Regions from separate parts of the Homo sapiens genome. Here region 2 is linked to region 1. The links come from fine-mapping of genetic effects on gene expression. A gene starts in region 1. The other region holds a variant in brackets. All regions are shown on one strand. Distances are from middle to middle. Region 1 holds the start of GALNT6 (polypeptide N-acetylgalactosaminyltransferase 6). Region 2 overlaps GALNT6 (polypeptide N-acetylgalactosaminyltransferase 6).

What was found.
Region 2: its variant is fine-mapped to the expression of GALNT6 in whole blood (INTERVAL, PIP above 0.99).

The regions. Positions count from the first base shown.
Region 1 is chr12:51,388,696-51,394,063 of GRCh38, reverse strand. GALNT6 (polypeptide N-acetylgalactosaminyltransferase 6) reads left to right here and starts at 2,658. Exons shown (of 12, transcript NM_007210.4): 1 at 2,658-2,777; 2 at 3,127-3,214. It also overlaps a transcript of SLC4A8 not described here. RefSeq lists enhancers at 178-267, 2,311-2,895, 2,896-3,481, 4,443-4,532 and a silencer at 2,086-2,625.
Region 2 is chr12:51,359,794-51,365,161 of GRCh38, reverse strand. It overlaps GALNT6 (polypeptide N-acetylgalactosaminyltransferase 6), which reads left to right. Exons shown (of 12, transcript NM_007210.4): 6 at 807-1,041; 7 at 4,324-4,441. Among named protein-coding and RNA genes, the nearest start is that of CELA1, 16 kb to the right of the region's middle. The variant A/G (reference allele first, on the strand shown) is at 2,677.

The DNA of each region.
Region 1 (5,368 bases):
CAAAGGGCAGAGGTGGAGGAAGGACAGAGCAAAGACGGTAGGTCCGACCTGTACAGGGAGTGTTCAGCCCCAAGAAGAGAGACATGAGGGGCAGCATCCCACAATCTTCCACAGGAAGTGCCCTCATTCTGAGAAAGACAGCTGTCAAGTAAGGCACATGACAAGAATAGAAGCAGCTGGGGCAGTGAGGTGGAATCAGAGTCCAGAGGGTCTACAGATGGGCTAAGGGATGCTCAAGGAAGCTCTGTAGAAAGTCTCTCTAGGAGCTTAAAGCCCACGGCCTGGAATGTGAAAGGAAGGGAGTTGGTGGAAGGCTGCTTAGAGTTAGGGGAGTCGGGCATCATGCCAAGAGTGAGCAGATGAACCCCTTTCTACTCCTGGGAGAATGTCCATCCTTCACGTCACTCTGATCATGTGTAGCTGGGCAACTCTTCTTCTCCACACTCTGCTGGCCTTCTCTCCTGACTCCATCAAAGAACATCTCACCTTCTGAATAGATCAAACCTACCTTGGAGTCTCAGGTTAGAAAAAAAGATTACTTTCTTCATTCACCTGTTAACACCCGGCTGGCTTCCCTGCCTTTCCCAGTGCGTGTCAGAACTTCTTGCTAGGATCTACTCACTCATGCTCCTGCTCCCAGGTCTTAGGGTCTTAGAAATACAAATTCATGGCTGGACTCGGTGGCTCATGCCTCTAATCCCATCACTTTGCGAGGCCGAGGCAACAGGATGGCTTGAGCCCAGGAGTTTGAAACCAACCTGGGCAACATGGCGAAACTCCCTCTCTACAAAAAAAAGTTAGCTGGGCATGGTGGCATGCATCTGTGGAGGCTGAAGCAGGAGAACAGCTTGAGACCCGGAGGTCAAGGCTGCAGTGAGCCGTGATAGCTCCACTGCACTCCAGCCTGGGCAGTAGAGCAAGAAAAGAAAAGAAAGAGAGAAAGAAAGAGAAAAAGAAGGAAAGAAAGAGAAAGAAGGAAAGAGAGAGAGAGAAAGGAGAGACAGAGAGAGTAAGAAAGAAAGAAAAAAGAAAAAAGGAGGGAGGCGGGGCAGCAGAAAGAGGAAGAAAACAGAAAGAAAGAAAGACAAATTTATTTAAATATCAAAACAAAAGAGAAACTGAACTAGTGGTAGAAGTTTCTACCATAGAAAGTTTTCAAATTATTGGCTATTTGGAGTCATGCGCGCTCCTTCTCTGTTGCTAAGGCCCCAAAAGATTGCAGCACACGAGGCAGCGCCGGAGAGGACCACTGAGCAGCACGGGCCCTGGCGGGGTAATTCCGAACACCGGCTTAGGAGGCGGGTTTACCAGGATTCTCATTCCAGCCCTGCCACTAATTGTTCAGGGTTCTCAAGGTCGAGCATGCACAAAATCACCCGGAGGGCTTTTAAAACACAAGTCGCCGGGCCCAACCCGAGTTTCGGAATATTTAGGTCTGCGGTGGGGCCCATTTCTTTTCTTTTCTTTTCTTTTTTTCTTTTTTTTTTTTTTTGATACGGAATCTCGCTCTGTCGCCAGGCTGGAGTGCAGTGGCGTGATCTCGGCTCACTGCAACCTCCCCCTCCCGAGTTCAAGCGATTCTCCGGCCTCAGCCTCCCGAGTAGCTGGGATTACAGACGCCCGCCACTACGCCCAGCTAATTTCTTGTATTTTTAGTAGAGACGGGGTTTCACCATGTTGGCCAGGCTGGTCTCGAATTCCTAACCTTGTGATCCGCCCGCCTCGGCCTCCCAAAGTACTGGGATTACAGGCATGAACCACCGCGCCCGGCCAAAATTTCTAATAAGTTCTCAGGTGATTCTGACTGGCGCTGCTGGTGGGGGATCCCACTTTGAGAAACACCCTCTGCTGTGTGAGCAGCTGCCTCCCCGGTACATTCGGAATAATCATAGTAGGTTTAAAGTTTGCTGGGGCTGGGATTCACCTGATACCTGGCACTTGGAGCCCTTGACACAGTTCATGGCACACGGAATACGAGCTCTTGTTGGATGGAGCACAAATGAGAAGCAAACCTGGGGCAGGACCCCGGGGCCCATGGCCGCCCCGCCGCGTTTCCCCCTCCGGGGCAGGCCTCCGGGCTCCGAGCGCTCCAGGCTGGCGCGCAGCACATTCCGGTTCCATGCACCCGCCGCCCGCGGCTCTGCTAATGCCTGTCCTCTTTGGGGTGACTAGGACCCTCCAATCTTTTTCCGCGCTGAAAGCCTGGCCGCAAAGACCGCACCCCCGGGGCGGGCTGAGACGCAGAGAAGCCGGGGCGCCCCTCTGCCGGTCCGCCGGGAGTTCCCGGGCCCGCAGCAGGCTGAGGACACGGCGGGACCCGCTGCACCTGGCCAGGGAGGGGCGGGGCGGGCGCGTTAGTGCAGCTGGGGGAGGTCCCGCCCCGGTCCCACCCTCCCGGCCGTCCGGTGGGGAAACCCGGGAGCCACCCCGCGGCGCGGCTGCGGCTTTGCCTCGGCGCGACAGGTAAGCGGCAGAAGGAGCCCGCGACCCTCTCCCCGGGAGGGCCCCCCTGAGCTCCCCGACTGCTCGGACTTCCCTTCGGCGGATCTCGCTTCTGCCGAGTCCTCGCTCTCACCTCCTCCTCCGCCAGCCTTCGCCTCTTCCTCTTCCTCCTCACTACCCCCGACAGTAAAATGAAGGGGCTGGGCCAGGCTGGTCCCTCCTGCCTTCGCTCTCTGCTGGTCGCGGTGGCCTGTAGCTCCTCCCTCGGTAGGACCCCCCTCCACCTTGGCGCTTACGAGATGAATGAGGAGCCCAGACCTCTGGAACTTGGAGGGGTGAGAGGGGGACAAGCCAGAGCCAGGGCTCCACACCCTCTTCCCCTCACCCACCCATGCCCTGCATTCCTTCTGTGCCCCGTCTCCCCAGATCGGGCCACCCCATGTGCTCTGGTACGGCAACTCTTGCAGAGAGGTTTCCTCCTGCCCTGCCACGTTGCGCCTGAGCAGAAGGGGACAGCAAGGAGAAGCCTCGCTGGTGGAGGTCGGTCTGAGCCCTGCTTGGTTGAATTCCCTCCAGAGCCTGGGGGCTTTTGGGGGTGGGAAGGGATCTGCCTCCTGCTGTGGGGAAATGGAATCTGCTGGGTGTTCATGACTGTGACTGTCACCGACTTCCCTATTTCCTCAGTTGTTCAGATTCCCAGGCTGACAAAAAGGAGAAACAGCTTTTACTTGCATCCAGGGCCAATCATCGCAGACCCAGACGTCTGCAGAGGGTAGGATGGGGCTCTTCTGTGTATGGGGGTGGAGGGTGGTCAGTTTGCCCACAAAGCTTACAGCAGACCCCTTCTAGCAGCCGACAACCCATTGCAGCACTCTCAGAAAGGATGTTAACTCTGTGCTCTGAGCTCGCCCCCAGGCCCACACACACAATTTACAGGCACTGGGTGAGGTTCATAGTTCTGGACACACCAAAGAGCCTCGAGGACTTTTGCGCCTTCTACCAGAGATGTGTGTGCACCACACAGGCCCTATTCTCCGCTCCAGACAGATGAGCTGTCTCCCTTCCCATCAAAGGAAAGGTTAAGAAGGATGAGACAGGGAAATTCATGTGATGATGAAAACCAGGTCAGGTGAGGGGTTTGAAATATGCTTTGGTTCCGGCCACATGTGGTGGCTCATGCCTGTAATCCCAGCACTTTGGGAGGCTGAGGCTGGTGCATCACCTGAGATCAGGAGTTCGAGACCAGCCTGGCCAACATGGCAAAACCCCATCTCCACAAAAAATACAAAAAGTTAGCCGGGCATGGTGGCAGGCGCCTGTAATTCCAGCTACTTGGGAGGCTGAGGCAGGAGAATTGTTTGAACCTGGGAAGCAGAGGTTGCAGTGAGCTGAGATCGCACCATTGCATTCCAGCCTGGGCAATAAGAGCAAAACTCTGTCTCAAAAAAAAAAAAAAAAAAAAAAAGAAAGAAAGAAAGAAAGAAATATGCTTTGATTCCAATTGCCTAGCAGGAGCCAGTAGCATTGCAGGCATTTCCCTAGCTCCAGTTCCTTAATGGTGCCATGCACTTTAGGAACCCAGAGGTAATCAGAGAAAGTTGCTTCCAGGGGCACCAGGGCAGAGAACAGGACAAGACCCTCAAAAGAAAGAGGGAAGTGTGCAGGAGACTGGGCTGCTCAAGATGACCTCACCTCAGTAATGCTGCCCACAGTCCTACAGTGGGTGGAACAGCTGACTCCTACCTGTAGCAGCATGGAAGAACTCAGGGCAGAGAAGGGGAGGCCCTGATGTGTGTCAGGTGCCCTGTGAGGTCAGAAACATATTTGCCCAAGTTCAGCTGGAAGAAGTGGGGACAGGAAATATGAGCATGAACTTAGTCCATGCAACCATTGCCTCGAACAGACCTCAGGACCAGGAGGGGCAGCTAACCCTAGGGCTGAGGGCCTCTCAGTGCAGGGAGGCAGTGAGTATCATGAAGGCAGGCAGCTGACTCAGCCCTGTCACTAACTTCGATATATAATCTTAGCCAAAACACATAAACACTCCCTGGGTGGGGAGCAAATGAGAAGGTGTATATGAAGTGTTTTGGCAAAGCTCCAAGCACCAGTCAAATGCAAGACAATGTGATGTCATAGTTAAGAGAGTGGGCTTTGGAGATACATAGGCCTGAATGCAAATTCTGCCTCTGCCACATTTCTAGCTGTGTGACCTTGGTCAAGTTACTTGACCTCCCTGTGCTTCAGTTTCCTTCTGTGTAAAACAGAGAAGATAACTGTAACTTGATTTGATATGGTAAGCAGTAATATTTAAAATGGTGATGGTATTCTTCTTAACATTTTCTGGCTCCCACGGATGTGTTCCGACATCTCAGCCCTGGAAGGGATGCTGAAGACCAGGTTGGGTGTGTCCATGCCGTAGCTTGGGTGAACTCAGCTCTTTACACAGTCCTCTGCCCCTTTCTGGGAAAGCCCAAATGTTCATTCTCATTTGATAGGAACGAGAGTGAGGATTTGAATAAGCAGGAGGTTAAGTGCAGGGCAGTGCCTGTCTCTGTGTCGAGCTCAATGTTGTAATTGTGCTGTGTAAAAGGCCTGTGTGGTGAACAAGGGTGAGCTCACTCCAGGGAGGAGAAGGACTGTTAGAAGACTTTTGTGGCACCTGACAGCCCTGTGGGGTCAGCTTATTCTCTCGTACCCTGAACAACTTGGTCCTAAGGCCTAGGTAGAGATTTGAAGGAAGAAAGCAACCCAGTCCTCAACTCTGCACGTAATAGAGAATGAAGAACAGACTAGCAAAATAGCATTGCCATACATCTCAAGGCAGAGAGATGCGACAGGGATTGGAAGGCCAGGTAGATTGGTCAGGAAGAACATTCTGGAGACAGAAGTTTGGGGACCAAGACTCAAGGATTGGGAAGGAGAAGGA
Region 2 (5,368 bases), 29 kb after region 1:
CCCTGTACTCCCATCTGCACCTTGCTCTGAGCTTGGCCCCTCAGAGAGGCCTCCTGCTATGACAGAACTGGCTTGTTTGGGGCTTTCTTCTAGGGCAACATGGAGCCAGGAAGGCCTCCTTCTTGCCCAAAACCAAAACACTTCCCCACTGTTGTGGAGGATGAAATATTTTCCCTAGGAGTGGTGATATATATTAGGGGAAGCTCTAGTCTTGGAGTCAGAATTCTTGGTTTGCATTCTGACCCTGCCCCACTAACAGCCTCAGTTTCCTCATTTATAAAATAGGAATGAGGATACTAACCTTACTGAACAGAAATATTACTCTGAGGGCCGAATGAAGTAATAATACGTGCAGAAGCTCACTGAAAATCTCAAGGAGCTAGACAAATGAAAGAGATTATTCTTCTACAATTAGGGCTGAAGCTTGACATGCGGATGCCCCTGGGAGGGGGAACACCCTCTTCTGAAATCCACACGTGGGCCCGGAGGGCTGGGCCAATGGATCGGCTGGAACCCCGGAAGATACCATCCAGGGCCTCCCTGTGCTTTTGGGTCATCTGAGTTGACCATGTTACTCCCCTGAGACCTCCATTCTCCCTGCCAAAGCTGCCTCCGCCTTTGGGGGTAGAGGGGTGGTAGAAGGGTTTTAGGAAATTCTGTGTGCTCCCTGTAGCTGTGGGGCTTGCTGCCTGTAACCCAGGAGTAGGTGGACTGTCTCTTATCCTCCTGGGCATTCCCTCCAGGATGCAGCTTGGGCTCTGCTGTGGGCAGGGCCCTGACTGCTGCCTCCTGGTTGGGGCCTGCAGGTGAGTGCTTCCACGGCTGGCTGGAGCCCCTCCTGGCTCGAATCGCTGAGGACAAGACAGTGGTGGTGAGCCCAGACATCGTCACCATCGACCTTAATACTTTTGAGTTCGCCAAGCCCGTCCAGAGGGGCAGAGTCCATAGCCGAGGCAACTTTGACTGGAGCCTGACCTTCGGCTGGGAAACACTTCCTCCACATGAGAAGCAGAGGCGCAAGGATGAAACCTACCCCATCAAGTAAGGACCGCAGCCTGGTGAGCCCCCAACCTGGCCCCAGTCCTACCCAGTTCCAGGAACCTGTGCCATCTCACATCAACATTTGTTAGGTGCTCTATCAAGCACTTGACATATTGTGATTAATCCTCACTCCCTATGAAGCAGGTACAATACTAAGAATACTAAGGCTCATAGTGATAAACACTGACCTAAGATCATGCAGCTAGCAACAGTGGAGCAAGGACACACTTCCCGGACTGTCTGGCCCTAACCGTGGCACTGCTCTTATTCACCATGACAGTTTGCTCTTATTCACCACTTACCATGTGCCAGGCACTGAACTAAGGGCTATACATTCTTTAGTTTATTCCTCCCTACACATAAAAGGAGTGGCCCATGCTTGCAGATGGGGCAAGAGATGTGATGGAGGCCATTGTGGAATAGTCACTGTAATAAGAGGGAGTGGTATGTGCCCCCAGGTGACTGTCTTTGAAAAGACTGAGAATATACTAAAAGAAAACAGACACATTTTCTGCAGCGTGAAGTTTGTAGCAGTTGCCCTGAACTTCTTTGGTGAAGGGCCAGATGATAAATATTTTGGGCTTTGCCAGCCACATATAGTTTGCTGCATATTCTTCATCTTATTTATTTTTTATTTTTTTTACAAACATTAAAAAATGTAAAAATAATTTTTTGCCCCAGAGGCTTCTAAAACCAGGCAGCCAGATTTTGCCCACAGGCTCTTGTGTGCCAGCCCCTGAGCTGCAGGGTAGACAATTGGAAGTCAACCCACAGTTTAATGCCCACTGGGCTCACCTTTCCCTCTTATACTCACCCCATCCTCCCCTCTCCAGGCAGCCTGTTGGTGTTATTGGAGACTGTAAGTTTATTTTAACAGTTGTCTCAGACAAACCAAGTTGAGGAGTGACTTTTAGTGTAGCCTGTGGTTTGGGATTATTTGTGTCATTGTTATCTTAGACTGGCCAGTATACTTAAGGCTCAACTGAATATACATCCAGGACGGAGGGATGCAGAGGTTGGAGATACAGTAGCCAGAGATAAGAGGGAAGGTTTGAAAGGAGGAAAGGATTGGTGCTTCTTCCTCTCCACGTGCCCAGAATCCTAAAAAATGCTGTCCATGCCAGGCACAGTGGCCCACACCTGTAATCCCAGCTAGATGAGAGGCTGAGGTGGATTAGGTGGATTGCTTGAGCTCAGGAGTTTAACAACAGCCTGGGCAGCATAGCAAGACCCCATCTCTTAAAAAAGAAAAAGAAAAAAAAAAAAACCTGCTCAGAGTCCCAGTAGAAAGGAACTCAGGTGAATGCCACAGGGAGAAATCCCACAGATCCTGAACAGCCAGCTGCTCTGTCTCCATTAGAAGGAGAGAGGGAAAGGAAAAGGCAAAAGAGAGAAAAGAAATTGGAACTTTCCACTGACCCAATGTTTGTTTCATAGCTGCCTTTTGTTTGGTGTGCACTGCAACAGATCCCCACCCCCACCCCCATGCCAGTGACCAGGCACACAGCAGCACAGTCAGAAAGAGGGCACCTGGCCCCCACCCATCACTGACGTCGCAGGCTTCAATGTCCAAGGGCCATACAACTGGAAGACAAAGCTCCAGTGTTTGAGGAATGAATGTGCTCCTTGGCCCAC[A/G]TGCCCCGGTAGCATGCATGGCTTGCCGAGGCTCTTCATGTAGCGCCCCCACCCCAGGAGGACTGCTGACAGTCCCCTCCCGGCCTCCCATCTCAAGCCAACCAGAGCCTAAGAGGAGAGGCAGAGGACCTGGGGGATTCTAGGGGTAGGCCAGGACATAAAGGGTGTTTACTAGAGGTTGCCTGTGGTTGTGAATTTACAGTGAAGCTTCCCATGCAGGGTTTGTCCTCATGGCTAATCCATCAGTGACTTCTCGGTCTGGGAGACTTCTCAAAGACAAGACTCAGGGCCTGTGGGGGAGGAAGCAGGTTGGCTTCCAAGTGCTCCTCTGCAGTTCCAGCACTCTCTGAGCCTCTCAGGGTGCTACTTGTGCCGGTTTAAGACCCCTGGGAGAGGCCAGAGCCTCTTCCAAAGTGATAGGAAGCCAGCCTGAGCACGACTGAAATTCCTTCCAGAAAGTGGCTGCAGGAGCCAACTTCAGGTAGACAAGAGCAACCACAGGGTAACACCAGGGTCACATTCCTGGGTAGGCACCTTGATGGATCATGCGAATGAACAGTGATTGGGCCCCAGCTGTGTGTAAGGCACCTAGATAGGTTCTGGGGTTACAGGGGTTCTGTATCTTTCTGCTTGGTTGTACCACATGAAGCTGCCCACTGAGGGCAGCAAAGCCCTAGCCATGCCAGGCTGGCCCAAACAGAAACCAGCAGCTGATGATTGTGCTCCTGCCATGTCTCACCGGCCCCCACCCCAGCATTCCATCTTGCTTATACTTCCCCGGGTCCGCTTCGATACCCTAACGCTTAGCCCAGTCCCTCTTCGAAGCAACCTGGTATCTAAATTCTAGGAATTAGATGTTTTTGTCAATTTATCTTATCTTGAGTCCACACCTCCCTGCCTGTGTCTGAAAGCCAGAATCTTTTTATAACCTTCTAAATGTTCCCTGTAGCCCAAATTGAGCTTGATCTCACCTGACCTTCCACTGTTTCCAGGAGCACCTTTTATCAGCTTTCTCTGTTAAAAGCAACTGGCAACTTCTCCCCAAATCTACAGTTTCTCATGCAGTGTAAATCACCAGGGCTAGGCGCCTACTAAAACTGTGGCTTAATAGTCCCTGAGGGGCAGGGGCCCTGAAACAGAATGGAGTCAGCCCAGCTGACAATATTCATTCATTCATTTATTCATGGTTTGAATCCTGCCTATTTTCAAAAACAATTTCACACAGCTTCTGAAAGTTGAGTATCTCCTAGGCTCCAGGCACTTTGCTGCCAAAAAGTAACTAATGGTAGCTTTAACCTCTGTGACTAGATTGAGCTCTGGGGGAATAGGATCTGTCTTTCTCCGTTCTGTGTGTCCATCATGTAGCACGGGCCCTGGTGGCCAGTGTTACGTGCATCCTAGGTTGAACGAATGAATGAGTGCCTTTTAGAGGATAATTACATATTTCCTTGACCTGGTCCTAGAAGGGGAAGAGGACATAGTAAAAGCTAAATGATGAGTGAGTTAGTGGATGAGGGGCTGCACGTCCTGAGAAAGAGGAAAGGAGGGGGAGGTGGGTTAGGAGGGGAGTCCACAAACAGCTTTCCCCGCCAGGCTCCGCTCCTCCTCTCCCAGAAGATGCACACACTTCTCCCTCTGTCTCTCCAGATCCCCGACGTTTGCTGGTGGCCTCTTCTCCATCTCCAAGTCCTACTTTGAGCACATCGGTACCTATGATAATCAGATGGAGATCTGGGGAGGGGAGAACGTGGAAATGTCCTTCCGGGTGAGAGTGAAGAGGGCTTTGGGGGGAACCACAACATCCCAGGCGACAGCTTGAGAAACATCTCTCAGGCAGAGGTGGCATCAGGGACATCCCATCTGGAACTGAACTAGAAAGGGTGGCTATTTCCCAGTGTGTCTCTTCCTCTTTTCTGCTCCCCCTGTCCATGGCAGTAGGGCTTGGGCAGTCAGCCTGGACAGCTCAAAACAAACTACTGGGCACAACTTCTCAGAGGCAAGGAATAATAGGGGTAATGAGGACTGGACATCTGGTGACTGGGGACTCTTTTGCGATGTCTGTGGGAAAGGGTTAGGGTGAAGATAGAAACAGGTTAGTATGTTCACAACTAGGGCTAGAAAAAAAAAACAGATGAGTAACCAGTCATCATCCTTTTTCTGGAAAAATCAGGCTCCCCTTCCCAGTTCAAAGGACACATGCCCTGGTAACCTTTGAAGTTTCCCTACCTATGTACAATAAGCCCTTCATAACAGTCAGAGAAGATGGTGGCCCCAACTCTGGTGGACCCCAGAACTCTGAGAGATTCCAGGAATTAGGCAAATCAGGATTAGGTCAGGAAGCAAGGATTGCCTCTCCATGAAACCTACACAAATCTCCATGCCATGGAAAAGTAATTAGTAAGTAGATGAGCTCATTTATGAAGTCACCTCTCACGGTGCCTGATGCATATTAAGCACGTAATTGATGCCTGCTGTTACTATAACGATTATGTATTTCTGTTGCTGCCACACTAAAATGAATAACAACATACTTTCCCACCTAAAACCCAAAAGAAGAAACCAGTGGGAGGGATGTCTTCAGCCAGCCCACCAGCATAGAAAAGGGTCACCTGCCAGTCACCCCAACTCCCAGCGGCCCAATCCTAGGCTCCTCCATGAGCCTCTGACCTCTGTTCACCTTCCTAGGCAGCCA